Homo sapiens: one gene and its partners. The protein of the gene in region 1 purifies or fractionates together with the protein of each later gene. This does not show direct contact. Each region holds a gene or a part of one and is shown in the gene's direction. Other genes may lie near its edges. The genes, in order: DNAJC10, ZNF74, LRP1B, FBLN5, ITPRID2, PPARGC1B and MTMR3.

Region 1 (4,848 bases):
TTTTTTTTTTTTTTTTTGAGATAGGGTCTCACTCTCTTGCCCAGACTGGAGTGCAGTGACGCCAGCGGCTTCCTGCAACTTCTGCATCACAGGCTTAAGCAATTCCCCTGCCTCACCCTCCTGAGTAGCTGGGATTACAGGCGTGCGTCACTACTGCCCAGCTAGTTTTTGTGTTTTTAGTAGAAACGGGGCTTCACCATGTTGGCCAGGCTGGTCTCGATCTCCTGACCTCAAATGATCCACCCTCCTCAGTCTCCCAAAGTACTGGGATCGATTTTGGGGTGTTTTCTGATACTGGCTTTTATGTAATTAGCTGATAGATTGGGGCACATCCTTTTTTAATTAAGTTGATTTTACCTCAAATAGAAAAATAACCTACAAATGTATTGATTTATAATTGTTATAGGAGTAAAAAATATTTATGAAATTAAGAGTTTCAACAGGCTTATTATTTTCAGCTGCATTTTTTAGGAAGAATAACTCATGGTCTGATAACGTCTGTCAACCTTTTGAAGAGTCAATTATTTCATTACTTTTCTTACTTTTTTTTTTTTTTTTTTGAAGATTATAGTTTCTTAAAAAATACTTCATTTCAACCCATGGTAACTCATGTCATGTTGTATTACCCCTCCTTATGTTGGTATATGGTCTCCCAGAAGTTACTAGATTAATTAAACCTACATATATGTTTTGAAGAAACTTGGATTGTGTATCTGAAATAATTGTATTATATCTAATATTTTTTAACAGAATAACCCAAATGCACATGGCGATTTTTTAAAAATAAATAGAGCATATGAAGTACTCAAAGATGAAGATCTACGGAAAAAGTATGACAAATATGGAGAAAAGGGACTTGAGGATAATCAAGGTGGCCAGTATGAAAGCTGGAACTATTATCGTTATGATTTTGGTAAGGTGATACGATATTACTTATGAAATGTGTTTTATCTGAGTAAAAGAAAAGTGAATTCTGTTTCACCACTTAGCTTATATATTTAAGATGCGTCACTTTGATTAGCTCCTTTTAATTTGCTGTGGGAGTGAAATTTAAAAGGAATGTCAGTTGGTATACAGAGATGATCTGTACAGATATGAAGTTGTATTGGTTAAATCTTGTTAAATACTTTTAAAATAAGGATTGCTATTTAATAAAAAATATGCATTCATGGACTGCATAATGACATTTCACTTAACAATGGATTGTATGTAGGACATTGGTCCCATGAAATTATAATACCATATTTTTACTGTACCTTTTCTATATTTAAATACAAAGATACTTAGCATTGTGTTACAGTTGCCTATGGTATTCAGCAGTAACATGCTGTACAGATTTGTAGACTAGGTGTGTAGTAAGCTATACTATCTAGGTTTGTGTAAGTACACTCTGTGATGTTTTTGCAACAACAAAATTCCCTAACAACACATTTCTCAGAATGTGTCCCATTAGTAAGTGATGTATGACTATATGTTTGCATTAGGGGTAGCTAAATATTTCTTTCAGTATTTTTTAGTATTGAATAATATTAATTTCTTTCAATATATTTTAGAGCATCATATTGTCCAAGAAAGGCGAAACTTCAAGTTTAGTAATGATCTCTTCAATAGAAATGCCGTCCTTCTCATATGGAACCCTTACTGATTTTTAAGGTGTTTTGGCCTTCGGTTGACATTAAGGTCAATACCTTGAAACATTATCAATAAAGGTTCCATATGAGAAGGACGAAAGGTGTTTTTTTTCTTAAACATGGAGGAAAAAATAAGGTGGAAGGAGGAAACAAAGTAAAGGAACTAAGGAAGAGAGATTGTAAACACACAGGTATCAAGGGAGGAAGGTGTGTTCAGAGACCCAGTGTTTCTCCTAGTCATTAATTAACCTCAAATGCAGGCTAAGAACTGAATATGCTTCTGTATTAGACTAAATGAAGTATTTTAAATTTATATCTGGAGGATTTGCTTTTAGTAAATATGATTTTTTTTCAAAATAGTATTTTCAAGTATATTCTCTACACCTTGATAGTCTATATCAAGAGTTAGCAGACTGCATTTCATAGGCCAAATCTGGCTTGCCATTTGCTTTTATAAATAAGTTTTATTGGAATGGAATTACTTTAATTTGTTTACATAATATATGTGACTTCTTTCACACTTCAAGAGCAGAGTTGAGAAGTTGTGATAGAAGCCATACATCCCACAAAGCCTAAAAAATGTATATTTACTAAATATTTGTGTCTGCCTCTGCAAATACTCTAAGCTTTTTAGCAGAAGATATTCTAACATGATACCATGTGTTAAAAACCATATAATCTGAAAATCAAATGAGGTCTGTAGTCTAGTTAACAGTGTACCACTCTCAATTTCCTGGTTTTCGATATTGTGCTATATAGCTACATAACATGTCACCATTAGAGGAAGGTGAGTAAAAAGTATACAAGAGTCTATATTTTTGCACCTTCCTGAATCTGTAATTATTTTTAAAACCATAATATAAATTTTATATGGAGGTAAAATTATGTGAATATTACGAACTACCGCATACACATCTATGAGAGTCCATATCAGAATTCTAATATCTTTAGATCACCCTAAATGTACTGATAGTATTATTTACTTTTTTTTCACTTAGGATGTTGCATATTCTCTAAGTTTGAGATATAATATAGTAGTTTGATTTTTTTGATGATTAAAACGAGTAATCTATTTTTATGTTGCAATTTATATGGTGAAGTTTTGATTTTATAATTTTTATATACTTTTAAAATTAGGTATTTATGATGATGATCCTGAAATCATAACATTGGAAAGAAGAGAATTTGGTAAGTTTGTGGGCTTAAGGTTTTATAAAACTAATACAAGTTCGATCTCATCTAAAACTCTAGGGGATATATATGTTTGAAATTTAGAAATCTTTTGGAGTTTCGAACAGTAATAATGTAATATACTGTATCTTAAATATTTCTAGCAGAATGTGGGGAAGTGTACCATAATAAAAACATTAATATTTATGTAGCAAAATGTGTAAGTATATATACTAAATAAAAGAAATTTAAAAATCAGTTCAGATCAGGTTTGGATGCCAAGTGAGCTTGCTGCAAACTTACAGCAAAACTTCTCAGAGCTTTTTGATTTTAGAGTTTTGGATAAAGGTATAGTTATTTTGGAAGTAGATTTAATTTGATTGGCAACTTTGTGTGAAAATGGCCATAAAAATACAGTTCTGCATTTTCCATTGCATTTTAGAAAATTGTATACCAGAATAGATTCTTATACTTTCATCCTTTGTACAGTAATAATAGGTTTATTTTTTCTATTTCAGAGCAATAAATTAAACTTCAAATCAAATTTCAATTTTATATTGCTCTATCACAATTGTATTTAATTTAGAAAACTAAAATACAGCCAGGCGCGGTGGCTCACACCTGTATAATCCCAGCACTTTGGGAGGCCAAGGCAGGCAGATCGCTTGAGATCAGGAGTTAGAAACCAGCCTGGCCAACATGGGGAAAACCCTCTCTACTAAAAATACAAAAATTAGGTGTGCCTGGTGGCACGCACCTGTAATCCCAGCTACTTGGGAGGCTGACGCACAAGAATCGCGTGAATCTGGGAGGCTGATATTGCAGTGAGCCATGATGGCACCACAAAAAAAAAGAAAACTAAAATAGCGTACCAGTCGCAAAAAATACATATAAATCTATATGTTTTTCATATATTATCGTTAAAAATTTATTACAGCTACTTGATTTTATACAGTTTGTTCCTTCTAAGCAAGGGTGGCTTTTTTTTTTTTTTTTTTTTGAGACGGAGTCTTGCTTTGTCACCCAGACCAGTGTGCAGTGGCACGATCTTGGCTCACTGCAACCTCTGCCCCCTGGGTTCAAGCGATTCTCCTGCCTCAGCCTTCTGAATAGCTGGGATTACAGGTGCCCGCTACCACACCCAGTTAATTTTTGTATTTGTATTTTTAGTAGAGACAGGATTTCACCATGTTGGCCAGGCTGATCTCGAACTCCTGACCTCAGGCGATCCACCCACGTTGGCCTCCCAAAGTGCCAGGATTACAGGCATGAGCCACCACATCTGGCCAAGGGTGGCATTTTAATCTTATTTTCTACATCATGCTGGTGAGCTTCACATACAAAATAGCTGTTCAATGTGTTACTTTGTTAAAAGCCTTCTAGGTGAACACTTGAACATGTTCTAAGTGAATAGAAAATACATCTTTCCTGTGTTCTGCAAATAAGACAATTTGATTCATTTGGATTGTTAATAGAATTAATGCTCATGTCACAAGCTGGTAGAATCATAACTCTCGTGTGAGTTATATAAACCTATAGCTGTTCCTGTGTGGTTTTTATTGTCTCTCATCTCCTAATATATCAGTAAGTGTTTTGTGTACCAATGGTTCAGAAAACATCGGAATTACAGATAGAGGAACTGAACAAAACTTGCAAGCTTACTAATCCATGAGTCTACCTAGAATGAGACTTCACTGATAGTTATATTGTATATGGGTTCACACTTTTTCAGATGTGTCACTATGCAGAAAAGCTTAAGAACTGTTAATAGTTCATATAGAACCCCAAATGGTAGTTCAAGATAAATTGCAGCCACAAAACTTCAGAGATAATTCATAAATAATTAACCTTGCTTGATGAGAGGAATGAGCAGGAGCATTGTTGTGATAGAGAAGGACCCTCTAGTGAAGCTTTCCCAGGCATTTTTCTGCTAAGCAGATGTTATCATTTCTGGCTCTCTAGAAAGTCAACAAGCAAATGCCTTCTAAGCTCTTCTATTATATGCAGCATAGGTTAAGTAGGTTTAATCAATTCTGACAGCTACTGT
Region 2 (2,403 bases), on another chromosome or scaffold:
AGGCCTTCAGCTGCCACTCGTCCCTCATCGTGCACCAGCGCATCCACACCGGTGAGAAGCCCTACAAGTGCAGCGAGTGCGGCAGAGCCTTCAGCCAGAACCACTGTCTCATTAAACATCAGAAAATCCACTCCGGGGAGAAGTCGTTTAAGTGTGAGAAATGTGGGGAGATGTTCAACTGGAGCTCGCACCTCACTGAGCACCAGAGGCTGCACAGCGAGGGGAAGCCCTTGGCCATCCAGTTCAACAAACACCTGCTCAGCACATACTACGTGCCTGGCAGCCTGCTGGGTGCAGGGGATGCTGGACTGAGGGACGTGGATCCCATCGACGCGCTGGATGTGGCAAAGCTCTTGTGCGTGGTTCCCCCCAGAGCTGGCAGGAATTTCTCCCTGGGGAGCAAACCTCGAAACTAACATGATGTGCTTTGGTGTCAGTAGCTGCTTTCTGAGCTACTCAACAAGGAAAGCACCCTGGTCCTCCCTGGCTCCTAGATCCAGACCACCTTCCTCCAGGTGTGGGAGCCTTGCCTTATCACCCCCATCAGGTCTGCATGCCAGGGTGCCTCCTCTAGTTAAAGTCAGTCACCTCCCCAGAAGGGCCACACTCCAGGAGGAGTGTTGAGAGTCATTTGAGGTAGTCTTGCCACCTGTTTTCCTTGATGGGCCTGGAAGTTGTTGACAAGGGGAAAGATCTTTCTTGCCAATAAAAAGAAGGGATATCGTTGGGTGCCATGGCTCACACCTGTAATCTTAACACTGTGGGAGGCCAAGGCAAGGGGATCACTTGAGCCCAGGAGTCTAGGACCAGCCTGGACAACATGGTGAGACCTCGTCTCTACAAAAAATGCAAAAATTAGCCAGATGTGGCGGCATGTCCCTGTGGTCCCAGCTACTCAGGAGGCTGAGGTGGGAGGATCATTTGAGCCTAGGAGGTCAAGGCTGCAGTGAGCCATGATTCACAGCACTGCACTGCAGCCTGGGTGACAAAGCAAGACCCTGTGTGAAATTAAAAGGAGGTATATCAACTGTTGTATCCTCGGACGGGCTCCTGACACGGCTTTAATCAGGAGTTTCCTCCATAAACTATTATTTTCAGAATAATAATAAAACAAGAATTATGACTAGCATCACTTTCCAGTGAACATTATTATATTGCTAGAGAGGAGAATAATCTTGGGTGGTGGGCATTTGGAAAAAGTGAATTTCCTGGACTTAACTCATGTAAATAGCTCTACTGCAGAGCTGTGTGTTTAGTGACAGTGCAGTCAGGGGCATTCCCACAGCTGTCACAGCACGGCCCAGCATCATTGTAGCCAGATCCTAACATGCCAACATCACCTCTTGCCATTTAGCCCCTAGTGAGAAATTGGGAGCTACCAGGCAGGTGCCCAGTGCATTCAGGGAAGATGGGCACAACATCAGGATGGGTGTGTCTGGAAGCTCCTCTTCACTGACCAGGGCTGGGCAGGGCCACCCTGGGCTGGTGAGGCTGCCCTGCAGGGCTTCTCACTATGTAGCACCAGTCACCAGCCCAGGTCACAGAAGAAGCCCCTCCCAGCACCCACTGGAGAGGGGAAGCTGAAGCCCAGGGAGACGGGCTCCATGGTGGTCCCACATGGAGCTGTTTTGCAAACCCTGGAAAAGGCGGCTCTCCCTGTCCCAACACTCTTCAGAGACAGGAAGACAGAGTTAATCTTGAATGAATGTTATTTCTACTTAGTCCTAAGCAAGAATAAGCTGCCCTCTTGGTGATCATACTTTATACGGAGTGCTATCGTTTATGAAATGCTTTCAGTATGCTTTTTAAATTATGCAGGCAAAATAACCACACTTCAGAAAATGTGGACTTCTGAAAAATAAAATCCCCATAATTCTTAATAAAACTGCCTTTTGCACTTTGATACATTACCCTCTGCTTTGTTCATGTAGAACTTTGCATTATTTTCAACACAGTGTATCTATAGTTTTTATCTTTTTTCCCTCTTTAGCTTTGTAGCAGATTTTTTTTTCAAGCATCTAAACTGTCCTCGTTATACTTCTTTTTTTTTTAAATTATACTGTAAGTTCTAGGGTACGTATGCACAACGTGCAGGTTAGTTACATATGTATACATGTGTCATGTTGGTGTGCTGCACCCAGTAACTCGTCATTTAACATTAGGTATATCTCCAAATGCTATCCCTCCCGCCTCCCCCCACCCCACAACAGGCCCTGGTGTGTGATGTTCCCCTTCCTGTGTCCATTGTTCAATTCCAACCTATGAGTGAGAACATGCGATATTTGGTTTTTTGTCCTTGCGATAGTGTGCTGAGAATGATGGTTTCCAGCTTCATCCATGTCCTTGTTATACTTCTAAACAGAGGCACAGTGTTCTCTCTGGTCTCTTAGATACTCTTTTGTT
Region 3 (4,848 bases), about 42 Mb from region 1:
ACTATTCTTTATATTTTCTGAATAAGACTTTTGTGAGAGAAATGTCTACCTATGAAGCAAAGATCCAATATTAATATTGGATCTTTAATAATATTAATATTGGATATTTTAAGTTGTTTTAAGTTGTTAAAGCTAACATGAACACACTGTAAATGGTGTAAGGCTAAAGGGTATTTTTATGTTATTTTTATGAATTAACATGATATGTATCGATGAAAAGTGATTCTATAATATTAGATCAGAAACTAAAATTTTCTGTTTATATACAGGCCAGGTACATAGGGGGAGGACCCAGTGCTTTCAAGCTTCCACACACAGCGCCGCCCATCTACCTAAACTCTGATTTGAAAGGACCACTAACTGCTGGGGTGAGAGAAGAATATTCGTTATTTCATGTCCGTTTCATCACAGAACCCTCACAATCAAAGACTAATTACTAGACTTAGAGGCTTGTTTTTAATTAAGTTTTTAATTAACAAGAGATTTCAAAATAGCATTTAAATTGGGGGCTTATGTTATGTGTCCTGTCTATGCAAGATTACATCTAAAACATTATTTTAGGCAAGCCATTAAGTAGAAATATCTCTTCTACTGGATTTGGAAATGTTATTGTCCCTTTACAGTGAACATGAGTATTTGTTATTCTTAGCAAAGAAGCTCTAGCCAGAAATTAAAACTGAATAAACTTTTGATTTTATTCATTTCCTCTCATAGTGGTTTATTTAATATATACAAATTTGACGTGCAGTTAAATAGACTATACTTTAAAATGTGTCATCATATTGAGAAATTACAGACGGTCTAACAAAACCACTCTCAAAAACATGTTTCAATTAAGTAACTGGTGTTTAGAGAAAGCTGTTCTGTCTAAAGTTACATAGTTCATTTTAAGCAGAAGAGGAATAAAAATATGCATTATCAAGATTCCTAGGGATGAGAATTCTCTCCCTTATCGTCTTTCCCATCAACTGTTTTCATCCTCATTTTCTATCATGTTTGTCTCAATTGCATGGCTCAAAGATTATAATGTTTCCTTGTTGTAACTAAGATTTAATGTACTGTTTTTGGAAAGACGAAACAAAAAATAAGGAAAACAAACACTAGGCAAAATTTTCTTGGGATAAACTGCAATTTGTTAAATAGTGAACATTGTATGTATATGTTTTCCAACTCAAAGAGGTCAGCTGCTGCATGCCTCTAATTCTACTTCAAAATGCTATGTTTGTGAAACTTAAGATGACTGTGTACATCACAATTCTTTGAAAAAGTCCAAAAATATTTCTAATAAGTACACACAGGTTGTTTGAGGCAAAAATATTGCTTTAAAAATCTGATACACTAATGCATTTCTTTACATTTTTGTTTACTTGTTTTTAAGTTCATGTTGAAAAATTATAAGCACCAAACAAATGTTTTTCTGAAAACACATCTTACTTGCCACGGATAGGCTTGTAATAGCAATAAGGGGGACAACACAAAAACTGAAAACATGACAATTTAGTTTCACATTTTATGCTTTTATAATAAAGTCTCAGTGAACATAGCTTTTACAAAGATTTTTTTCTGGCTTTTTGTATATGGCAAAGCTCCTCTTAGGTTCACAAGTTACTTGCAAAATGTAAAATTATGTTTCATTTAATACCATGCTTGAGTTGAGTAAAGTCTGTAAATGTAACATGTAAATAACCTTTAAATCATTACTATTTAATAAATTAAATGTATTGCATATAAATATTGTTACGATTAGGAGATGGACATTCTAGGAAGTAAATAATTAATGTGGCCAAGACCAGTAATAAAATTATATTTATTTTTTTTCTCCTTCAGCCAACAAATTACTCCAATCCGGTATATGCAAAATTATATATGGATGGGCAAAACTGTCGAAACTCCTTAGGAAGTGTTGATGAAAGGAAAGAACTGCTTCCAAAGAAAATAGAAATTGGTATAAGAGAGACAGTGGCATAATCAGTGATATCTTTTATATGCTGTATAAATGTATAAAATATAAGGATTACTTTTGTATGTTCCAACAGTATTATACTTGTTTTGGCATCAGCATTACCTCTTTCTTTATCTTTTTCCTGGTTAATTGTTTTCTGAGTTTTTTGGGTTTTATTTTTTGCTGATGACTATTGATTGACCATTTGTATGGTATTTTTATGAAAAAGAACTGCACTACAGTACAATTTACAACAATGCTGCTGATATGACACACCTTTGAATTTGTTAAAATTAAAAACAACGTATTCCTTTGTAGTGTGAATATGAGCAATCTATTTTATATGAACTTTTTTGGTTGTACTTAATCAACGAGGAGAATCTCTGCACTTTTCCATTATACGGTTTGAAGGCTGTAATACAGTGTCATATTATTTTTCTGTTTAAATTGATGGAAAAATGATTGAATGGTCAACTCTCTTCTTTGTGCCCATAAAGATCGATTCAGACTCTGCTGAAAATATATAGCTCTCACAAGTTCAGCATCACCTGCTTTGAAATTAGCCTTAGATTGCCAACCAATAGATGAGAATTTTGAGGAAAAAAATTAAAAATATGTAAAATTAATAATTTGCATGAACACAGATGACTACATTTTCCAAAACTTAGTGGACTCTATGTGATGTACTAAATGTATACACCTTGTAAGCAATAGTTATATTTAGGTGGTAGAACATAGCAAAAATATAACCGAAAGTTGGCCGACTGCACTTGCTATGGAATAAGACCTTTTATTCTCCCTCAGTCTCGAGATAAATAGCCAGCCTAGAGCACAACAGGGCATTGGGTACTTGCATCTTAGGTATTTCTTCCCAGTCACATCCATTTTGTGGAAGATTAACCCAACCCCTTACACTACACTGAACACTAAAGAATAATATATAAGCACACAAATTGGTGACAGAATTTCAATTACGTGAACGCATCCTCTTTGCTAGGTCAAAAAACAAAGGGCAAAGCAGACATTTTAGTATACAGAGTGATTGGCAAATATTTTCAAGATTTAATATGAGCAACCCATTATTTGCCCTATCCAAAATATATTCAAGGGCCTTCCAAGTTGTAGAAGAACAATGATCTTCCCATAATCAAAAGTGGAGAGTCGAAATGCTGTGCCAGTTGCTCTGGTATTCAGGTTTCTCTGGGTTTTACAGAACGCATGGACCCCATTCACGTTTGGTTTGTTTATCTTCAAATTTGAGTTGAAACGAGTGCGATTTATTTAAGTTGTATATAAAAATAAAAGGATAGCATTTTTATACAAATATCTTTAAAGGCACAAAAGATTTATTCACAAGTTTTGGAGGGCTTTTTGTTCCTCTGATAGACATGACTGACTTTTAGCTGTCATAATGTATTAACCTAACAGATGAAATATGTTAAATATGTGGTTGCTCTTTATCCCTTTGTACAAGCATTAAAAAAACTGCTGTTTTATAAGAAGACTTTTTGTTGTACTATGTGCATGCATACTACCTATTTCTAAACTTTGCCATATTGAGGCCTTTATAAACTATTGATTTATGTAATACTAGTGCAATTTTGCTTGAACAATGTTATGCATATCATAAACTTTTTCAGGTTCTTGTTTAAGTACATTTTTTAAATTGAACAGTATTTTTCATTTTGGTTATAATATAGTCATTTTGCCTATGTTTCTACAATGAAGTGTTAAATACTTTATAAAAAATTGTTGACTGACTTATTTAAATGAAATTCTACATATTTAAGAGCTTGTGTTGGGTAGTTTTTAAAAATAAGAAAATTCCTTTATGTAGCTTAAATATTCTGAGAGAACTGTTTTAGTAAACACGGCATTTTTATATCCTTAGAACATAATACACTCCAGGGGAAAACTGATTTCATTGTATCATCTTTCAATGCACAGTAGAGAAGGCATTTTCTGTCTTCATGGAGTAGAAACACTCCCCTTACTTTATCCTTTTCCCTGCCTTCCTGTGCCTGTCAGAGTCTCCATATTGCAATAGAAAGAAAGGTTCTATACACAGTAGCATGACAACCATGCTAAACAAGCCAAAGCTCTTCCTGTCCCTTTCTATTCCCCAAAACTGTACTTTATGGAAAATCAGATTTCCATTAGACGCTATTTCCACATTATTTTGTTAGAATGGTTATTTGCTATACCTACTTTTAGCATCAGACTAGAGATGGAAAATATAGGTGCGTCTGATTTACTTAACATTGAGTTATATTATTTGAAGGGGCCTTCTGATGTCAGAGCTGTGTAAATGCAACTGAAAATATTTCAAAGAACCCACAGAGTGGTGTGATATTAATACAGTTAACATTAGTATAAATATCTAGCAAATAATATATGATATGCAACCTACTGCCAGTTGGGACCTGACATTGATGACCTACTCTCACTAGGGCCCTAGTGAAAACAATAGTCAACAAAGCTTAGAATGTGTTTTTTTTAACCCTGGGGCCCTGCAGCTACTTTAGATGATAAATATATATTTTCAACTACTTAAAGTTAATTTAATCTGTTTCCATAGCTCTATTGTGTTCTATTCCAATTTTCTATTGCAAAAATTTTTATAAATGCTAGAAATTCAAGTTTATAATTCTCTTTCAAAGTCACAATTCTTTATAAATGCCATCAAAAAATGCTTTCTAAACTATTGCTTCAAGCTTTGATGGGAGATATTTTATAAATATTAATGTTTCTTGATGAACTTGCTTCTCTACCCAAATGCCTTCTTATCTAGAGCAATGAGTTTCAACTTTTTGGCATTTTATCAAGTAATTATTTGTTTTCCTTTATGGGGAAGGATATTTAGAACCATCATTTCCTTCTATCCATTTCAGTAACGCCAGTACTAC
Region 4 (3,500 bases), on another chromosome or scaffold:
GGATTTCATGGGGGCAAATAACTCATATTCGACACTCTGAAGGCGAGGTAGCACCTAAAGAAAGAGTCATTGCCCTTAAAAGCAGTCTTATTCATTCCCAGAAAGGGGATGAACAGGGAGCATGCCACATTAGGCTCAGCAGATATGATTCCTCTTGCTCTTCACAACTACAGCATTAAAAACCCTGAAACCTGTCTGCTAAAAATGGGAGCTATGAAGCAATGGTACAGGGAGTTTTTTTTTAAATAAAGTTTTTCTAAAAACACAGAGATGGGGTCTTGAGGGCGGTCTCAAAATCCTGGGCTCAAGAAATCCTTCCTCCTCAGCCTCCCAAAGTGCTGGGATTACATGCATGAGCCACTGCGCCTGGCCTGGTGTGGGGAGTTTAGAAAGTAGTTCTAAGTATAAAATAATTACAAGGAAAAATTTTAGAAGAACAAATAGGGGTTATAATACAGGTATTGGTATTTTGGAGGCCTTTCTTTTTTGCTCCATTTCCCCAACTTTCTGTGTTGCAGCAATAAGACTTTTATGGTGTGAAATGACCTTGCCTGTTTCTCCTCTCTCCTTCCCTGCAGGCACAGTGCACGAATGGCTTTGACCTGGATCGCCAGTCAGGACAGTGTTTAGGTATGAGCCACTGTGGATCCTTCATTGGGGTGGAGGCATTCAGCCCAGTTGCAGTGCTATTTATTTCTTTCTCTGTTGTTCAATGATTAGCCATGCCCATGGGAGAATACAGTGACATGGAATGACTGAAGTCAGTGGTGCCCTTTTATTGATCACCTTCTTTGTGCCTGGCCTTGAGCTAAGCACTGAGAGGGGTGAAAGAATTGATCTCTGTTCTCTTGAAGGTTTCTATTGGATTGGTGTTTCCTAGGGCTGCCGTAACAAATTACCACCAACTTAGTGGCTTAAACAACACCAGTGTATGATTTTACAGTTCAGTAGGTCAGAAGTTTGACTTGAGTCTCCACCAGAATAGAATTAAGGTGTCAGTAGGGCTGTGTGCTCTTCTGGAGGCTCTAAGGGAGACTTTTATTCCCTTCTGGTTGTTGGCAGAATTGAGTTTCTTGTGGTTGTAGGACTGAGGTTCTGTTTCCTTGCTGACTGTCAGTGGAGGGCAATTCCTACCTTTTAGAAGCCTCCTGCTTTCCTTGGCTGGTGGCTCCTCCCTCCATCCTCAAAGCCAACACAGCGAGTCAAGCGTTTCTCACTTTGAATCTCTTCTTTTTCTGTTGTAGCATCTCTCTGACCAATCAGCCTCTTCTTCTTCTACTTTTAAGAACTCCTGTGAATATATCGGGCCCACCCAGAAAATCCAGGATAACCTCCCCATCTCAAGGTCAGCTGCTTAGTAAGCTTAATTCCAGCTGCTACCTTAATTCCCCTTTGCCGTGTAACCCAACCTATTCACAGGTTCTGAGGACTAGGAAGAGATTTTGGAGTGTTTGTGGGGGTCATTCTCTTAGCATGCCATCTTTTGCAATGGACTCTGCAAAAGAAGAGGAGAAAGTAATACCTTATGTCCAGGGTCAATAAAGCATCGATGGGGCCGGGTGCGGTGGCTCACGCCTGTAATCCCAGCACTTTGGGAGGCCGAGGCGAGTGCATCACCTGAGGGCAGGAGTGCGAGACCAGCCTGGCCAACATGGTGAAACCCTGTCTCTACTAAAAATACAAAAAAATTAGCCAGGAGTAGTGGCATGTGCTTGTAGCCCCAGCTACTCAGGAAGCTGAGGCAGGAGAATGGTTTGAACCTGGGAGGCAGAGGTTGCAATGAGCTGAGATCGCACCACTGTACTCCAGCCTGGGCAACAGAGAGAGACTCTGTCTCAAAAAAAAAAAAAAAAAAAATTAATGGAGGTCACATTTGAATTGGGTATTGAAAGATGAATAGGATCCTAAGAAATGCCATTCCAGGTAGAAGGAACAGCATTAACAAGGACCAGGTGTGGAAAGGACACTCAGAGCATGGAATAGTTTGTTGTTGACAGAGCATAGGGCATATGAACGGAAGAAGACAGCCCTACTTGCCCCCATCTTAGGGGAAGTATTTAGCTTTTAAATTATATTTAATTTAAGCAAAATCATTTGTCTTCTCTGAGCTAACGTCACCATGCTCCAGAGGGGAGATAGATGGTTTGAAAAATCGATGAACAGTGAGGAATAAAACCCTGTCCTGGGAAATCTGGGCTTACGTTTTGATTTTAAAATAAGGTGTTTTGATTTGAAGATTTGATGAGGAATCAAGAGTAGAGCAGTGGCCTTCTTTTCTGGCCCCCCATTTCAGCGATGGCTTCAGGCTTCAAGCTGGAGAACAGGCTGTTGCATTCTGCACCTTGCCATTGCTTTTACCTCTGGTAGGATTGGGTGTGAGTTTCTCAGATGAGATGCTGGGGGTGAGTTGTCGGGTGCAGGCATGTGGTCTCCAGTCTCTAGCCCCGCACAGAGCAGACTCCAAGGCTGCTGACATGGCTCGGTATACGGGATCATGTCTACTGCTCGCTGGAGCCACAGTTCAGGCCTCCCCTGTCTGTACCCTAGCAAGGCTGATTTTCTAGAGAGTCCACCTCTCCCCTTCCAGACATAACAAGCAGAGCCCAGCCTGGCTAGAAATTGTTGGCTGGCACAGAGCTGACTTGAAAGCAAAGCTCTGCTTTCTTAACAAGCAACTAGCTGTCAGTCAAGCCTTTTCTTTTTTTTCTTTTTTCTTTTTTTTGTTTTTGTTTTTGTTTTGAGATGGAGTTTCCCTCTCGTCGCCTAGGCTGGAGTGCAATGGCGCAATCTCAGCTCACTGCAACCTCTGCCTCCCGGGTTCAAGCGATTCTTCTGCCTCAGCCTCCCAAGTAGCTGGAATTACAGGCATGTGCCACCACACCCATCTAATTTTTGGTATTTAGTAGAGATGGGATTTCCCCATGTTGGGAGGCTGGTCTTGAACTCCTGACCTCAGGTGATCCACCTGCCTCGGCCTCCCAAAGTGCTGGGATTACAGGCATGAGCCACTGTGCCCAGCCTAAGCCTTGTCTTTTCCTGATGCAAGAGACTCTTTCTCCCCTGACCACTGTTACTTGAAGTAGAAGTGGAGACAATTGTTAGGCCCATCCCAGTATTTTCAGAGTATAGTATGTGCACACGAGGATCCTTGATGTATTAGATGGTACATCTGCAGATAAACACTCTTTATTTTAATAGTGTATATTTATTTTTACTGTTACCTTCTACTTATGCTAGTTTTCACTTGCTGTAGTCATGTAAGACTTTAAATATACATTTATTTGGGCTTCAAATATGGGCTTACTTAAAGAAAGAGTATGTGCAAATGATAGTACAGGTTTGTTTTAGTCCGTTCTCTGTTGCTTATACCTAAATACCTAAAACTGGGTAATTTATAAAGAAGAGGAATTTATTTCTTACAATTGTGGAAGCTGAGAAGTCCAAGGTTGAGGATCTCCATCTGGTGAGGGCCTTCTTGCTGGTGGGGGCTCTCTGCAGAG
Region 5 (4,848 bases), 820 kb from region 1:
TGTTTATTCCAGAAAGCATTAGATTTTAAAAAGTGTGTTGTGCTATTTAAAAGTTTTTACAAGTTATGTAATGTTTTCCAGTAGATTTATAATAAAGCTTTCTTGTACAAAAAATAAGAATTTTTAATTATTTTACTGGTGTTTTAAAAGCTATTTTATAGCTCATTGATCAAATTGCATAGATTATTCATAGCTGTATAGCTCAGTTATTAATGTGTACTTTTTTAAAAAAAACAAGGATTTTTAAAAAGTCTTTAAAGCTTACAAGTTGGTGAATAGTGAATTTATACATTGAATTTAATATTCTTGATTTTTTCCTGTTTCAAATGCATCTGTAAAGTAAATTACTTATTTAGAACCTTCTAACATTTAAAACTCTGGAATATGCAAATATATTAGTTCTTATTATTTCTGTTCATATATTTTCAAGCTCTATAAAGAGCTTAAACTTACTGATTCCCACTCAGTACAATTGAACATGTTGTCAATCCGTTATTAAAATGCACTTTGCACTTTTGATATTTGCCTTGGTAGTTTGATAATATTGAATGATTTTATTGGAAACCAGAACCTAAAAAGGAGTCTCATGAAAGAGTAAATCTATTATGTTGTTTTACTGAAAATTATTTCAAGGCTATTTCCATTCATTAAGTAAATAATTACTGAGTGCTGTGAGTTAGGCACCTTTCTGGTGGATGTACAAAGAAACACAAAATTGTCATAACTTTGTAGATCAGAAATGAAAAGCAATTCATGTGTGCTGAAATAGATGTGTTTATAATTAATTTTATTCTTTGTATTTGTCTATAAATTTAACTTTAAACATTAACACTTACCTGTTTAGAACTTTAAGCTAAAGTTCTATCATAAAGTTGAAAGGCAATTTTTAAAAGAAAGTTTATATTGAAATAAGTAGAAATTTTCATGTTATATGTGTGAAAAATCAGTTATAACCTTAAAAAAAATTCACATTAGAAACTGACATATACTATTGCCACACTTAATGTTAAATCATGTTTTCCTCTTAAGATATTATTCATTAATAGCTTTTAAATTTAATAATTAGTACCACATATATGGTACATATCTTCCTCATTACTTATTTCTAACCTGTTAAAGAAATTTAACTGGTTCCCTATACGTTTTTTTATTTTAAGCACTCAAGTGAGAGTAGTTAGTTTCATGTTGCCACAACACAAAAACACCCTTCAAAAGCTCCTGGCCCTGTTCTTATCTATCTGTATATCACTTTTAATAATGCAGATTTAATGGACCAAGATAAGTGTTTAATATATTTGGCATTTAATTCTAATATTGTAGGTAATTAGATTTCTTGATAATTGTATCATAGTAGTTATAGTCCTACTAACAATTGTGCTCTACGTTTATTGTTTTTACCTGTAGCCAACCACCTCCATGAAAGTGATGCTCAAATTGAAAACTGGTATGTAGCTGTTTTGTTCTATTTCTTTTAAAAAATGAAGACCTTTAATGAAAATAAAGTTATAAAGTTTTATATAATCTGATTTTGTTCGTAGCAATAATATCTTGGCCAAAGAGAGAAGATTACAGTTTCATCAGAAAGGGAGAAGTATGAATTCCACTGGATCTGGGAAAAGTAGTGGGACAGTTTCAAGGTAACTTATTCTGAAATTGTGTTGGAATTACATTGTGCTATAGATGACCTACTCTTATCATTTTTTCAATCTTGGATTTGACCTTGATCATATGAAATCAGAAAGAACACAAAAAGAGCGTTTCCTGTACCAGCACAACTGATAGGAGCTTTTTGTTTTGTTTTGTTTTGTTTTGTTTTACTTTGAGATTAAATAAAATGCAATAAATAGGCTTATACTGCTGCTGGAACCCATAAATGAGTATTTTGAGCCCTCTCAACAGCCTGAAAGAGGAACTCCATAGCGGAGTAACTTGTAGTTGTAGAGAACCAAAATTCATTGTTAAGGACTTGAGTTAACTCTGACACAAAAATCAGAATAAATTTTTCTAAGTTACAGCTTGATATTTAAGCATACTTTTTTTCAACACATTAAACCAAAGATCTTTCAAATATATAGTATAGCCAGGCCCAGTGGCTGACACCGGTAATCCCAGTGCTTTGGAGTGTCAAAGTGGGTGGATTACTTGAGCTTAGGAATTCAAGACCAGCCTGAGCAATATGGGGAAACGGCGAAACCCTGTCTTTACAAAAAATGCAAAAATTAGCTGGGTATGGTGGGATCCACCTGTAGTCACAACCACTTGGAAGGCTGAAGTGGTACCCAGGAGGTTGAGGCTGCAGTGAGCTATAATTGTGCCACTCCATTTCAACTTGGCTGACAGAGTGAGACGCTGTCTCAAAAAAGCCAAACAGAAAAATACCCTTGCCCCTCTCCCGCCCGCACATATAGTATATTAAAATACATCAGTGCATGTGCCTATGGAATCCAGTTTAAACTGTTATCCAAATTATAATATTAGAATCTGAGCATTTTGTCTGAAACAAATTGAAATGTCTCTCTGTTGAAGTTCCATCTCTAACTTTCCTGTTTTCTTCAGTGAGTCTTAGAAAGCTTGGATTATCACTGGTATGAGAGAGAAGGGATACTAAATATTTAATTCCCAATAGGATTAGAGTAGTTACCTTTGTGTAACCCACACTCTCTGTACCTTACTCCTCCTACTTCCTGAGTGGAAGTGGTTGGAGAGAAGTTGAAAGTAAGCTCCTCCCTCGCTTCTCTGAAATCAGCTTGTTATCTTTATTGTTCCTCCTAGGACAATTGCCACTCCTAGGACAAGGATAACAGAAAAGCTCAAATTTCACAAAATGTCCCTCAGTTCCTTTTAATTTCTGCTTTAATCTGTTCATTCCTTATTCTTCATCATCTGTCTTCTACTTGTTTTAGCTGCTTTACAGGGAATCTCTTAAAATGACAAAACAAATAAGGTGAGGAATCACGTAGGGAATCTCTGACTGTGTTCGTTGGGGTTAGCTCTTTTCTGCAACTCTAGCAACTTGAGACAATGAACCCTTTATAAGGGCTATTTATTCCCCAGTACACATGTGTAAACATGGTAAAATAAATAATGGTTTCCAGAGCAGAAGCTGAGAAAAAAGATTTTATCACAGGAAATCAGTAATATGTATTCATTTATAATGTGGTGTGGACTATCAATTTATTTTATATTTTCATGTTTCCTTTTTTGCCCCCTTTTTTTGTAGTGTTTCAGAATTGTTGGAACTTTATGAGGAAGATCCTGAAGAAATTCTTTATAATCTTGGATTTGGACGTGATGAACCAGATATTGCTTCTAAAATTCCTTCCAGATTTTTTAATTCATCATCCTTTGCCAAAGGGATAGATATTAAAGTATTTTTGAGTGCTCAGATGCAACGGATGGAAGTAGAAAACCCAAATTATGCTTTAACAAGTAAGATTTTTAAGTGTTAGGCATATTATTTTCTTAAATTATAGCATCTACAGCAAGATGGTCTTATTTTAAAGCCTTAATTTTCAGGAATAGCACTGGAAAGTAAAGAGATTGATTAACGCAAAAGCCATTTTTACATGTTAAAATTAAGCTATTTTATTACTCCATTTATAGTGGTTAATTTGCCTATTTTTCCCCTCCTCCCCAATTCCTGACTTAAGTGCTACCATAACTTATTTGCAGAACCTTATTGTTGTCTACAGATTGCTTTTATTCAAGAAGAAAAGAAGTAGGAGAGGAGCCTTGTTAATCTTAAATGAAGTCAGTCTGTTTCAGGAACTAGTCTGGCTAATTTGATCAGTTTCACTCATATCTTTGCTTGTTTTCTTTCTGTTAGCCAAAGATTCCAAAAATAGGATTCCAATCCTGCATTGTTCATGGATCAGTTTTAAGAGATCAATAAATCCCTCACCCTGCAAATTAGGTATAAAATATATGCTTACATGCATTTTCTTAGGAGAATTTTGAAAGAGTCTTAATGGAGTTCAAGACTTCAGAATAGAATCACAACTGTAGATTCAATAGCTAGTTCTTTCTGTTTTATTCAATGTTGCCATTATGCTTTGTGCTTATTTCTGATTTTTTAAAAATACAAATTCTAGTGCTTAGAGTAAAAATCTTGCTCCTTCCCACCCAGTGAATGTAGAGAAGGTTTAAGTGTTAGATGAGGAAAAAATAGGGTTTTATAATCTTTGTGATCTAAGTGTAGTTTTTGGAATTCTAAACAATAATATGCATTTAATATATGTGTATGTATATATATAAATATAAACATATCATTAATATTGTTTCTTTTGGTAGGCCGTTTTCGTCAAATTGAAGTGCTTACTACTGTGGCCAATGCGTTTTCTTCTTTATATTCTCAAGTCTCCGGGACGCCCCTGCAGAGAATTGGAAGTATGTCCTCAGTGACCTCTAACAAGGAGACAGACCCACCTCCACCTTTAACTCGAAGTAACACTGCAAATCGTTTAATGAAAACACTCTCAAAACTGAATTTATGTGTTGATAAAACAGAGAAAGGAGAAAGTAGTAGTCCTTCTCCATCAGCTGAAAAAGGAAAGATTCTAAATGTTTCAGTGATTGAAGAAAGTGGCAATAAAAACGATCAAAAGTCTCAAAAAATTATGAAGAAGAAAGAGTCATCTTCTATGTTGGCTACAGTTAAAGAAGAAGTCTCTGGTAGTTCAGCAGCTGTTACGGAGAATGCTGATAGTGATAGAATTTCTGATGAAGCAAATAGTAATTTTAACCAAGGAACTGAAAATGAACAAAGTAAAGAAACTCAAAGTCATGAGAGTAAACTGGGTGAGGAATCTGGTATTGTAGAATCCAAATTAGATAGTGATTTCAACATAT
Region 6 (4,561 bases), on another chromosome or scaffold:
TAAATGGAGGGGAGCTGCAGAGTTGGAAACCCACATGCATGGATGTGTCCTTGGCCCAGAACCACCATGGGATGGGGGAGGCCCTGAGCCGGCTACAAGACACCCAGGAAGTAGGCAAAGGCTGACTTTGCATTAAACAATAAAAGCACTTTGAGAAAACCCCAACACTTCAGCCTGGGTCCGTGTTTCTACACTGGAAAATACGAGTCTCCTTTGGCTGTGTGAAGTGATCTTCTAGAGACTGGGACAGGGAGTTTGGGAATGGGGCTGCTGTCAGGTAGGAGAGAGCAGAGATGCCTTTGGAGATGTCAGCAGCAGGAGAGCCAGTGCTGGGGCCAACCCTTTGCTGGCCTTTTGTTGGAAGCCCTTGAAACAGGGAGCCATGGGTTTAGATCTTGGTACCTACCTTTACAGAAAGATGAAAACAGCCCAGCTGAGTGAAATGAGTTTGTAGAGTAAGTCACTTAACTGTAAGCCATCTCAGAATCAGAAACCCTAATGTTTCTTACTTGCTATGTGACCTTGGGCCCCTGTTTCCTCATCTACCAAATGAGAATGTTGAATATGAGCATTAAAGTCCCTTTCACCTCTGAGAGGCTCAGATCCCCAACCAGGAGCATTGGGAATCCATCACTCCTCCTTGAAACTGATTCCATTCTCTGACTTGACCCAGCTCCTGTTCAGGGTGAGGGTTCTCTGCAAGAACCAACCAGCAGTAGGTTCAATCCCACTGTGTCCTGGCTGAGTTGCCTTATCCAAGAAGACCAGCTCCCCGGGACAGATCTAAGCCATAGTTTCTAGTGGGGACAGTAAGGAATTAAACCCCCAACTTGGCTAGGTAACGATGTCAAATCTCACATTAACCTTGTCTTTGTCCCCACTGGATAGCTGTTAATCCGAATGTTGTGACCATTTGGCTGTTTCTCTCTTGTTCTCAGACAATACTAGCAATACACTTTTTTTTTTTTTTTTTAAAGAAAAACAGCTTAGGAGCTTTTCACACATTTCTTTCAAATGATTGTAAAACATATGGGGCAACAGGAGGCATTGATCGCGCTGCATATGTTTAGGGCAGCTTTTGTTTTTTGTTTCTTTAATGGTATAGCAGCAGTGACTGAGCCTTCGTGATTCCTGGGGACAGCTTTTCAGATACTCTGTTTCATCAGTATGCTTTGCACATCCGGAAGGAGTACAAAAATCCAACTGCCCAAATTTGGGGCTTGGAAAATAGGTTTTATAGGTGGTCGGTCCCTGGGCTGTGCAACAACTCCTCAAAGAGGGGTTTATATAACTAGAACCCCCCTGGGCTGTATTTTTGGTCAAAGGAGTCTCCAAGGCGGCTTACAAAAGCTTCCTTTTTCACTTGACCACCCTTGCTCATTGGTTACTTGTGAAGGGAATTGGTCAGTTTCCACCTCAGCACTTTGCCTTATCAACATGCGGTCGCCATCTAGTGGCCAAAGGTTGTCTCCACCAGCTACCCAGATGGAAGGCAAATAAATCCTTTCGGCCACCCTGCTGTCCATCGTGAACTTTGGGAATGAAATATAATGGCCTGAACGAACTGCCTTTGTGTTCAGAGATCAGTGCAACACTAGGGTCAGAAGACTCCAGAAGCAGCCACTTAGTAGACTCTCACGCAGAACTGAGAAATGCACTAGCTGTCCTGTGGGCAGAAGAGACAGGAGTGGACCAGGAGAGGTCCAGGTGCCCGGGAAGGGTTTACTGTAACTGCAATACTGGCAGCCCAGCTGCTGACCTTGTTAAGTAAACCTTTGCTGGGTGGTCCGAATTCTGCCCTCAAGGCAAGATAAGAAGTTGGGTGTAAGGATTTTGTGGGGGGCCTGGCCATGATCTTTGATATGATCCCCGAATAGCCAAATAGTTTTTTTTGTTCAATTTTTTGTTTCTGTATTTTGTATTTTTAAAATCTTGTCAAATGTTTTTGTGTTAGGAATAAAAAGTCATAAACTATTCCCAACTTTGTTTCTTGAGGGATGTTCTGATTCCAATGGAAACAGGTGGGAAATCTCAAGGGGAGCGTGGACAAGGTGGTATGTGCAGCAGGGGAATAGACTGCTTGGATTTCCAAATGGTTTCTGGGGAAGATGACCATCCAGAAGTCCAGCTTAGTGCAGTCTGCTCTGGAATTCACACCCACCCCCTCGCCTCCTTGTGCCATGTTGTTAGCATTGGCTTGGAGCATCTGCTTCTTCCAGAGGCAGCTGCTAATGTTGAAACCAACACGAGCCCTCTCCCCAACCCCAGGTTTCTAAAGAAGGTGTCTGTAGCCAGCCTTAATCAACTGGGCAAGGTGGTCCCTATGGTCCTTTCCAGCATTTCCAAATCTTGGACTCAAATTATTTTCTCTTGGTGTGACCACACAGCCTAGAGAATTCTGAGCAATAGGAGCCAGGGCTTTCCCTGACTCTGCGACAGGGTCAAACCAAGGAATGGCTAAACCTGTGAGGTTTTGTCATCCCCGGGGGTACTACTGTAGGGGGCATTATTTATTAGGAAGCTTAACAAGGTAACTACGGCCTGAGTGCGTGAGTGTAAGGCTGTGTTTGTGGTGGGGGTGTGTGTGTGTGTATCTGTGCACACATACACACGTCTGTGCCTGTGTGTGTGTGTTTGTGTGTGTGTGTGTGTGTGGAATTACATTGATGCATTTATTGAGAAAGGTGCAAGAATTTCACCTACACAGAGGGACACATCTGCTTTGTTATTTATAATAGAAAGCTAAATTTTAATTTTTTAAAGGACACTGCTAATGATTGAGAATCAAGTTTTTAGTTTTGCTATTTTTTTTAATTGGTAGAGGATTTTTATATATTTTTTCCATTTTGTTGGGTTGTGTCCTTATTTATATAAATACTTTATCCGTAAGAGGCAAGGAGGAAACCTTCTTTGCTTTTACATATTGTGGTTGTCATCGTCCCTATTTTATTTCTGGTGTGATTTCTCTGTCTTACCTTCTAAATGAGAAAATGTTTTCTTGTATTTGTACATTGTCAGATTCTATAGTTTCCTAGATAATTTAACCAAATTGCTCTATGTATTATTATTCTGTGAGTATAAAGTTCTATTTTAATGTCTGTAAATACTTCAGAACTGGCTTCTTTTCTCAAACTCCCACTGTGGGGTTATTGTTTACATCACAGAAACTGTAGAATCTCTATGCTCATGTACTGTAAATAGTGAAGTGATCTGCTTATAAATAAACTTAACAAATACACTATGGAGATTAAAAACAAAATACCACCCACAGCTTTGCCCATGTGTGTTTTTCCTTGTTGGTCCTGGGAGCTCATTGAGGGACACTCTGACCACTAAATGGGGAAGAGATTTCAGTTTTCAGCGTCACCTTCTCAGATAAGACCCCGGATGATGTCTGCTCCTCACCTCACCACACTTCTCCCTCCTTCAGAGCACTTTTCACAGTTCATAATATCCATTCGTGCCAGGCACAGGGGCTGAGGTGGGGGATCACTTGAGCCCAGGAGTTCAAGGCCAGCCTGGGCAACATAGTGAGACCCCCATCTCTGAAAAAGTAAAGTAAATAAAATATAATAAATAAATAAAATAACCATTCAGACTCATCTCACATAACAGCTGTTCCATGAACGACTTTTTGCCCTGACTTTTATAAAGCTATACCACTTTCTGAACAAAGACTTCCTTGTTTTGGTATATCAACTTTCACATAAGCACATTGAATAAATGCACTGTAGGAGGTATTTTGGCATTGTGGTTCCAGGCAAAACACTCATCAATTTGTAATTACAAAATGGTTTCTGGTCAGAGGATCTCATAGAGAGCAGGCCTGCATTGTGTGCGGTAATTGAATGAGCTCAGAACATTTTCCTTTGTGTACTTCCAGCAAGTAGGGTGAGGAAGTGGCATCTTCCAAGACTCTCAGTTGCGTGCCTGTGTGTTATTTCCTCACGTCTCAAAGGGGTTAGCCTGTATTTTGCCCTAAAGCTGTTTTTTGTGCTTTAACTTTATTTTTAAATGCCAGACACCCATAAGCCCCAAAGGGTTGAAACACTGGCAAAGAGAATTATATATAAACAAGAACAGGCTGGGCGCGGTGGCTCGCATCTGTAATCCCAGCACTTTGGGAGGCTGAGGCGGGCGGATCACCTGAGGTTAGGAGTTCGAGACTAGCCTGGCCAACGTGGTGAAACCCCATCTCTACTAACAATACAAAAATTAGCCCGGCGTGGTGAGGGGCGCCTGTAATCCCAGCTACTCGGGAGGCTGAGGCAGGAGAATCGCTTGAACCCGGGAGGCGGAGGTTGCAGTGAGCCAAGGTCGTGGCAACAGAGCCTGGGCAACAGAGCAAGACTCCATCTCAAAATAAATAAATAAAATAAGAACAGGTGCAATGAATGATTACATTTTATGTTATGTGCAAACTATTTTCAGGTTGCTATTTATTACATAAACTCATACAAACTCATACATATATTCTCCTTGTTCAGGTGATTTATTTTCCCCATCTGTAAAGATTGTTTGGATTTCTTTGATTGCAAGGGAACACATCATGATTTTTTCC
Region 7 (4,848 bases), on another chromosome or scaffold:
TAAACAAATATTTATACCCATCCTGTGGCAGATGCTGCCAGTAGAAATGGAGAGAAGGGACTGGTTTCTAGCACTGTTGAGGAGTTAGCTCTGATGGGGGTTTGTGGCTGGAAATGGGGGTTCCAGAGGGGGAGGTTCTCAAGGAGGTGCTTTCCTCTCTGGGTGGACTTGACTCAGGCAGCTCAAGTACAAGTGTGAGCCTGGCTCTCAAGTGGTCAGCGTACATTAAAGGCGGGCACATCCAGTGACTTTCAGTTCAGAGTGACTTGGCTTTTCCTTCATGCTAATGATAGTTTCTCATGTTCCCAGAGAGTCCTTCTAAGAAAAGGAGGGCATCCCGAAAGCACTCAGCTTTAACTTAGTGGCAGGCAGGGTTGGATTGACAGGCCCACTGGAGCAGCTGACATACAGAATTCTCATTCCATTTTGGTCACTTCCCTCTCACTCACTTTCTGGAACCCTGAGGGCCTGTTTTTCTACTCCAGAGTCACTGCACACAACCTGTGTATCCCTCTCCCAGCTGAGCCCAGGCCCACACTGCACTTCTTCACCCCAGTTCTTGATGGCTGATGCATCTGCAGATTCGGCAGTCCTAGCACTCGGCCCCACCCAGAGTCCTCAGTTCTCCCTTCTTCACCAGGCCTTTTCTTCTTTTGGGAGGAGACCAGGTTCATTCTGTTCAGCTGTGTTTGTTTGCCAACAGACTTCAATCCCCGACTCGGAAAGCAATCTGGATCAGAACTGTTTGTCTCGCTGCAGCACAGAGATTTTCTCTGAAGCCAGCTGGGAGCAGGTGGATAAACAGGACACAGAGGTACAGGCTCAGCCCCTGCTCTGAGTGCCATCAATTTAACTGTTTTGTGGTTCTTCTCCACCCCCATTCCCACCCCATACCCCTGGCCAAGGAAGCACCTCCCAGCACAGCTAGCCCTGAGCCTCTGGCACCTTAGCTCCTGGGAACCCACATGAAGCCTAGGATTTCTGAGCCAGGGAGACTCAGCAAGCTGGCCCTCCCTCTTCATTGCCTCTATGAACTGGAGCCTTGCCAGCTCTCACAGTGACCCAGGGTGCTGCTGCCTGCTACTTTATCTCAGGGGAGATTGGAGTCCCCTCCAGGGAAACGATTTGGACGCCTTTCTTGTACTGTTGACATCAGATCTGCTGGGCTGGTGCCACTGGAGCTGATGTGGTCCTTGTGACTCTTGCTGCCCCCAGCATGGCTCTGCTGGCTCCAGCTGGATGGCCCATCTCCTGTCAGTAACCTGGTCCCATCTGTTTTGCAGATGACCCGTTGGCTTCCTGACCACCTGGCCGCCCACTGCTATGCGTGCGACAGTGCCTTCTGGCTTGCCAGCAGGAAGCACCACTGCAGGTACCATTGAGGGGCTGTGGTAGGGTGGGCTGTGTGTGGAGGTTGAGGGTCGGCCCACAGAGCCTGCAGAGTAGAGGGTTGTGGGTATCTCAGTGTTCTGTCTGAGGCAGAGCCATGGTCTCATCTTCCTGTGCCTCTGAAATTGGTGTTTGCAAAACTGCATTTGGCATCTTTGTTCAAATTCAGAGTAATCACTGTTAAATTCTGAAATGTGCAAATGGTAGCATTTTGTTGTTTCCCAGATTGGTGAAACAACAGCCACCACTGAAACCACCATTTCTTATTCTCAGCATAACATTTCTTCCCATTCAACATGGCTACTATGAGCAAAACCAGTTTTCCTGCGATGGGGAGGGAACTATTTTCCTATTCCTTTCCTGCTCCCTGACCCCACACTTGTTTTCCCTTGTGCCATTGGTGAGCAGCTGTAGCTTGGGAAGTAGTAGAGACAGCTGAGGACAGTCTTCCAATCATTAAGGTTCCTGACTTCTTTTTCCTTCTGGGTTAGGGTAGTGAGTTTACTAGGGACCCTTTGCCCCAGCTAGGGTGTTGACTGTCTGGTGGATGTTCAGTGTTCTTAGAAGAGGAAGTTTATCTGAATCATGCCATAGCTCACCCACACGAGTGGGTGGATTGAAAATGGAACAGTCTCTTTGCCTAGTAATGATGCTTCTAGGACATGTATCTCCCCACCCTGCACCCCAAGCCCAGATATCTTTGGTTGGCTTCTCTTCTGAGCTCTTTCTCCCCTCCTTGCAGGGACACTGACCGTGTTGATCAAACGTGGTGAGCATTTGCAACAACCTGCCTGTGATGTCTGCACATCTACAATAACTTCTCCACACTAACTCTTATCATTTCCCCCTCTCTGCACTTACTAGGGTGAAGCCTGGGGCCTTGGGTGCACAGGCAGATAGGTGGGCTTGAGGGGATTCAAAGCAGCTGAGGAGAGGCCATCGAGGGTGGGTCAGGCTGCAGCCATGTGCTCCCCTCCTGATCACAGAGGTCAGCCAGGCCGTCTTGCTTGTGACGAGAAGTAGTGCTTCTTGTCTTCTGGTCTTGTAGGGGAACCAGTTGGGTTTTCAGAGCTATTTATTTTGGGTCAGTGATTCATTGAGATGCCAGAATAATGCTAGTAATTTCCAGGTCAAACAGCATCACTGCTTCTTTTTTCCCTTTTTTTTTTTTTTTTAAGAGACCAGGACTGAACAGAGGTGATCTTTCCAGAGAATTGTTTTAGCTTGGAAGACTTCAAGGAAAGATTCCACTTAGTGTCTTTCAGGGTCCTCTGAAAGAAGTCAGATAGAAAAGCATCAGCCAGGTGCGGTGGCTTACGCCTATAATCCTAGCACTTTGGGAGGCCGAGGATGGCAGATCACCTGAGGTCAGGAGTTCAAGACCAGCCCGACCAACATTGTGTAACTCCATCTTTACTAAAAATACAAAATTAGCTGGGCATGGTGGTGCACGCCTGTAATCCCAGCTCCTTGGGAGGCTGAGGCAGGAGAAGAGAATCTCTTGAACCTGGGAGGCGGAGGTTGCAGTGAGCCAAGATCGCACCATTGCACTCCAGCCTGGGCAATAAGAGCAAAACTCCCATCTCGAAAAAGTAAAGAAAAGAAAGAAAAGCATCAAATTCATGTCAGGCTTTTGAGCTGAACTCCAGCAGGAATGTTAAAGAAGTGTAGATGTTCAGAAATTTTTCTGTGTAACTACAGGTTTTTGCTGACTCACGCTTTTTAGAACTAGTTACGAAGTACAGCATTCTAGAAGATGAATTTTGTGTTTTTCTTTTCTGTCTTTCCATTGCCCCATGTCCCACCTTTTCCTTTTGTGGTATTCTTTTGTTCCCAACTGGTCTTAGTCTTCTCTCCTCCTGTGCCTAAGTGATCCTTAATCCAGCAGTGGGTTTGCATTCCGAACAGCATAAATGAAAAGTTAGAAGGCTAAGAAGCTGCCCTCCCCCAGTCTTTGGTGGGCTGTGTCAGGCTCCTTGGAGCTTCTTGTTCTTAGGCTCATTAGGATTGATTTGTACCTCAGGGCCCAGCAAAAGTAGAGTTGTAAGGTGGGCAGAAACTCATTCTTTGCCAATTCCCTTTCCTGTTGGCTCTGATGGGCATCCATCTGGGGGTGCAGAACTGTGCTGCACAGATGCCTCAGAACCCAGCTTTCAGGGGAGGAGGAGAGGGATGCCTGGGGCCTGAGTGCATTCTGGCCTTCTGGTAGAACTCTGGTTTTCCCTGGAGATGCATGGGTCGGGGAGTGAGCCATAATTGACTGACACCTATCTAATAAGGGGGTGTGTGTGCACGTGTGTTCATCCTGTGTTCTTGTCCTCCCACCTCTCCTCTTTCACCCTCTGAGCATGCATCACAGGCTACTTGTCCCTGGCTTTGCATGCTGCCAGCAGAGCAGTCCAAAATGGCAGCAGTCTATCTGCCATGTTGCTGCCTTTGATCCTCTGGAGAAGTGGCCGTTGGGCAAGGCTCCTTACTCCCCAGTGAGGCTGGGTAGTTGTTTCTCTCGTTTGAGGAGCCTGGCCTCTGTGATCACAAGCTACACAGAGGGCATTGCCTAGGTGGGTGTGGCCACTGGGTTTTCCTGGATCAGGACTAACCCATTGTTAGGACCATGTATTCTTACAGATCTCTCTTGAGCAGCATTCTTTTGTATACCTGAGCAGCATTCTTTTGAGTCAGTGGTGAGGCAGCCAAGAATCCTTGGCCCCAAAGTGAAAATGACATGTGACTCTGCTAGGTAGGGACACCCTCCCTACCCAGCTTGTTCCTGGGCTAGAGAGATGAAAGGGTTTGATCTCAAGGAGCTCCAGCACATGCAAATTACACACGGCAAAGTTTGTCTTTTGAAGTTGGTTTCCCTCCGCATACCTGCTGGCCAAAACTAACATTGTTCTGTTTCTTCTCATCTCAAGGAATTGTGGGAACGTATTCTGCTCCAGTTGTTGTAACCAGAAGGTTCCAGTTCCCAGCCAGCAGCTCTTTGAACCCAGTCGAGTATGCAAGTCTTGCTATAGCAGCCTACATCCCACAAGCTCCAGCATTGACCTTGAACTGGATAAGCCCATTGCTGCCACTTCCAACTGAAGCTCAGTGACCTGGGTGGGCAGTGGCCAAGCTGCTGTTCCTATGACAGGCCCACTCAACCTGGGCAGACCGAGAGGCCCGTGCACTTTGGAATGGGAGCGTGGAACCACCTGTACAGAGTGACAGATTTGGGATGCACCACTGGATTGTAGATTGATTTTTCTTTCCTGTCCCCCTACTCCCTCCCTACCTTTTCCATCCTCCTCCTCTGCCTTCAAAAAAGGAAACTTTCCCTTGGTTGTCTTAATTTTTTTTTTTTTTGATGGAAGACCAAGGGTTGCCAGGCCCACTGTAACTGCCGAGCTGCCTGCTGTCACGTGACACTGAGGGATGGCTTGTTTCTTCCGGGTGGGAGGATGGTGGTCAGAGCCA

The links.
Region 2: the proteins of DNAJC10 (region 1) and ZNF74 purify together in Homo sapiens (co-immunoprecipitation; one large-scale study listed by IntAct). This does not show direct contact.
Region 3: the proteins of DNAJC10 (region 1) and LRP1B purify together in Homo sapiens (affinity purification with mass spectrometry; 2 studies listed by BioGRID and IntAct, with this or other methods). This does not show direct contact.
Region 4: the proteins of DNAJC10 (region 1) and FBLN5 purify together in Homo sapiens (affinity purification with mass spectrometry; 2 studies listed by BioGRID and IntAct, with this or other methods). This does not show direct contact.
Region 5: the proteins of DNAJC10 (region 1) and ITPRID2 purify together in Homo sapiens (affinity purification with mass spectrometry; 2 studies listed by BioGRID and IntAct, with this or other methods). This does not show direct contact.
Region 6: the proteins of DNAJC10 (region 1) and PPARGC1B purify together in Homo sapiens (affinity purification with mass spectrometry; 2 studies listed by BioGRID and IntAct, with this or other methods). This does not show direct contact.
Region 7: the proteins of DNAJC10 (region 1) and MTMR3 purify together in Homo sapiens (affinity purification with mass spectrometry; 2 studies listed by BioGRID and IntAct, with this or other methods). This does not show direct contact.

What each region holds. Positions count from the first base shown.
Region 1 is NC_000002.12:182,719,257-182,724,104, forward strand, and holds part of DNAJC10 (dnaJ homolog subfamily C member 10 isoform 1 precursor), read left to right. Parts: intron 1-750; coding exon 751-913; intron 914-2,768; coding exon 2,769-2,819; intron 2,820-4,848. UniProt on the Homo sapiens protein: Endoplasmic reticulum disulfide reductase involved both in the correct folding of proteins and degradation of misfolded proteins.
Region 2 is NC_000022.11:20,406,553-20,408,955, forward strand, and holds the end of ZNF74 (zinc finger protein 74), read left to right. Parts: coding exon 1-416; 3' UTR 417-1,903; downstream 1,904-2,403. UniProt on the Homo sapiens protein: May play a role in RNA metabolism.
Region 3 is NC_000002.12:140,230,306-140,235,153, reverse strand, and holds the end of LRP1B (low-density lipoprotein receptor-related protein 1B precursor), read left to right. Parts: intron 1-269; coding exon 270-368; intron 369-1,827; coding exon 1,828-1,968; 3' UTR 1,969-3,731; downstream 3,732-4,848. UniProt on the Homo sapiens protein: Potential cell surface proteins that bind and internalize ligands in the process of receptor-mediated endocytosis.
Region 4 is NC_000014.9:91,937,695-91,941,194, reverse strand, and holds part of FBLN5 (fibulin-5 isoform 1 precursor), read left to right. Parts: intron 1-578; coding exon 579-630; intron 631-1,244; exon of another isoform or gene 1,245-1,345; intron 1,346-2,742; coding exon of another isoform or gene 2,743-2,865; intron 2,866-3,500. UniProt on the Homo sapiens protein: Essential for elastic fiber formation, is involved in the assembly of continuous elastin (ELN) polymer and promotes the interaction of microfibrils and ELN. Stabilizes and organizes elastic fibers in the skin, lung and vasculature.
Region 5 is NC_000002.12:181,897,476-181,902,323, forward strand, and holds part of ITPRID2 (protein ITPRID2), read left to right. Parts: intron 1-1,404; coding exon 1,405-1,444; intron 1,445-1,538; coding exon 1,539-1,637; intron 1,638-3,220; coding exon 3,221-3,429; intron 3,430-4,290; coding exon 4,291-4,848.
Region 6 is NC_000005.10:149,851,753-149,856,313, forward strand, and holds the end of PPARGC1B (peroxisome proliferator-activated receptor gamma coactivator 1-beta), read left to right. Parts: 3' UTR 1-3,270; downstream 3,271-4,561. UniProt on the Homo sapiens protein: Plays a role of stimulator of transcription factors and nuclear receptors activities. Activates transcriptional activity of estrogen receptor alpha, nuclear respiratory factor 1 (NRF1) and glucocorticoid receptor in the presence of glucocorticoids.
Region 7 is NC_000022.11:30,021,326-30,026,173, forward strand, and holds part of MTMR3 (phosphatidylinositol-3,5-bisphosphate 3-phosphatase MTMR3), read left to right. Parts: intron 1-703; coding exon 704-814; intron 815-1,283; coding exon 1,284-1,372; intron 1,373-2,131; coding exon of another isoform or gene 2,132-2,158; intron 2,159-4,304; coding exon 4,305-4,476; 3' UTR 4,477-4,848. UniProt on the Homo sapiens protein: Lipid phosphatase that specifically dephosphorylates the D-3 position of phosphatidylinositol 3-phosphate and phosphatidylinositol 3,5-bisphosphate, generating phosphatidylinositol and phosphatidylinositol 5-phosphate.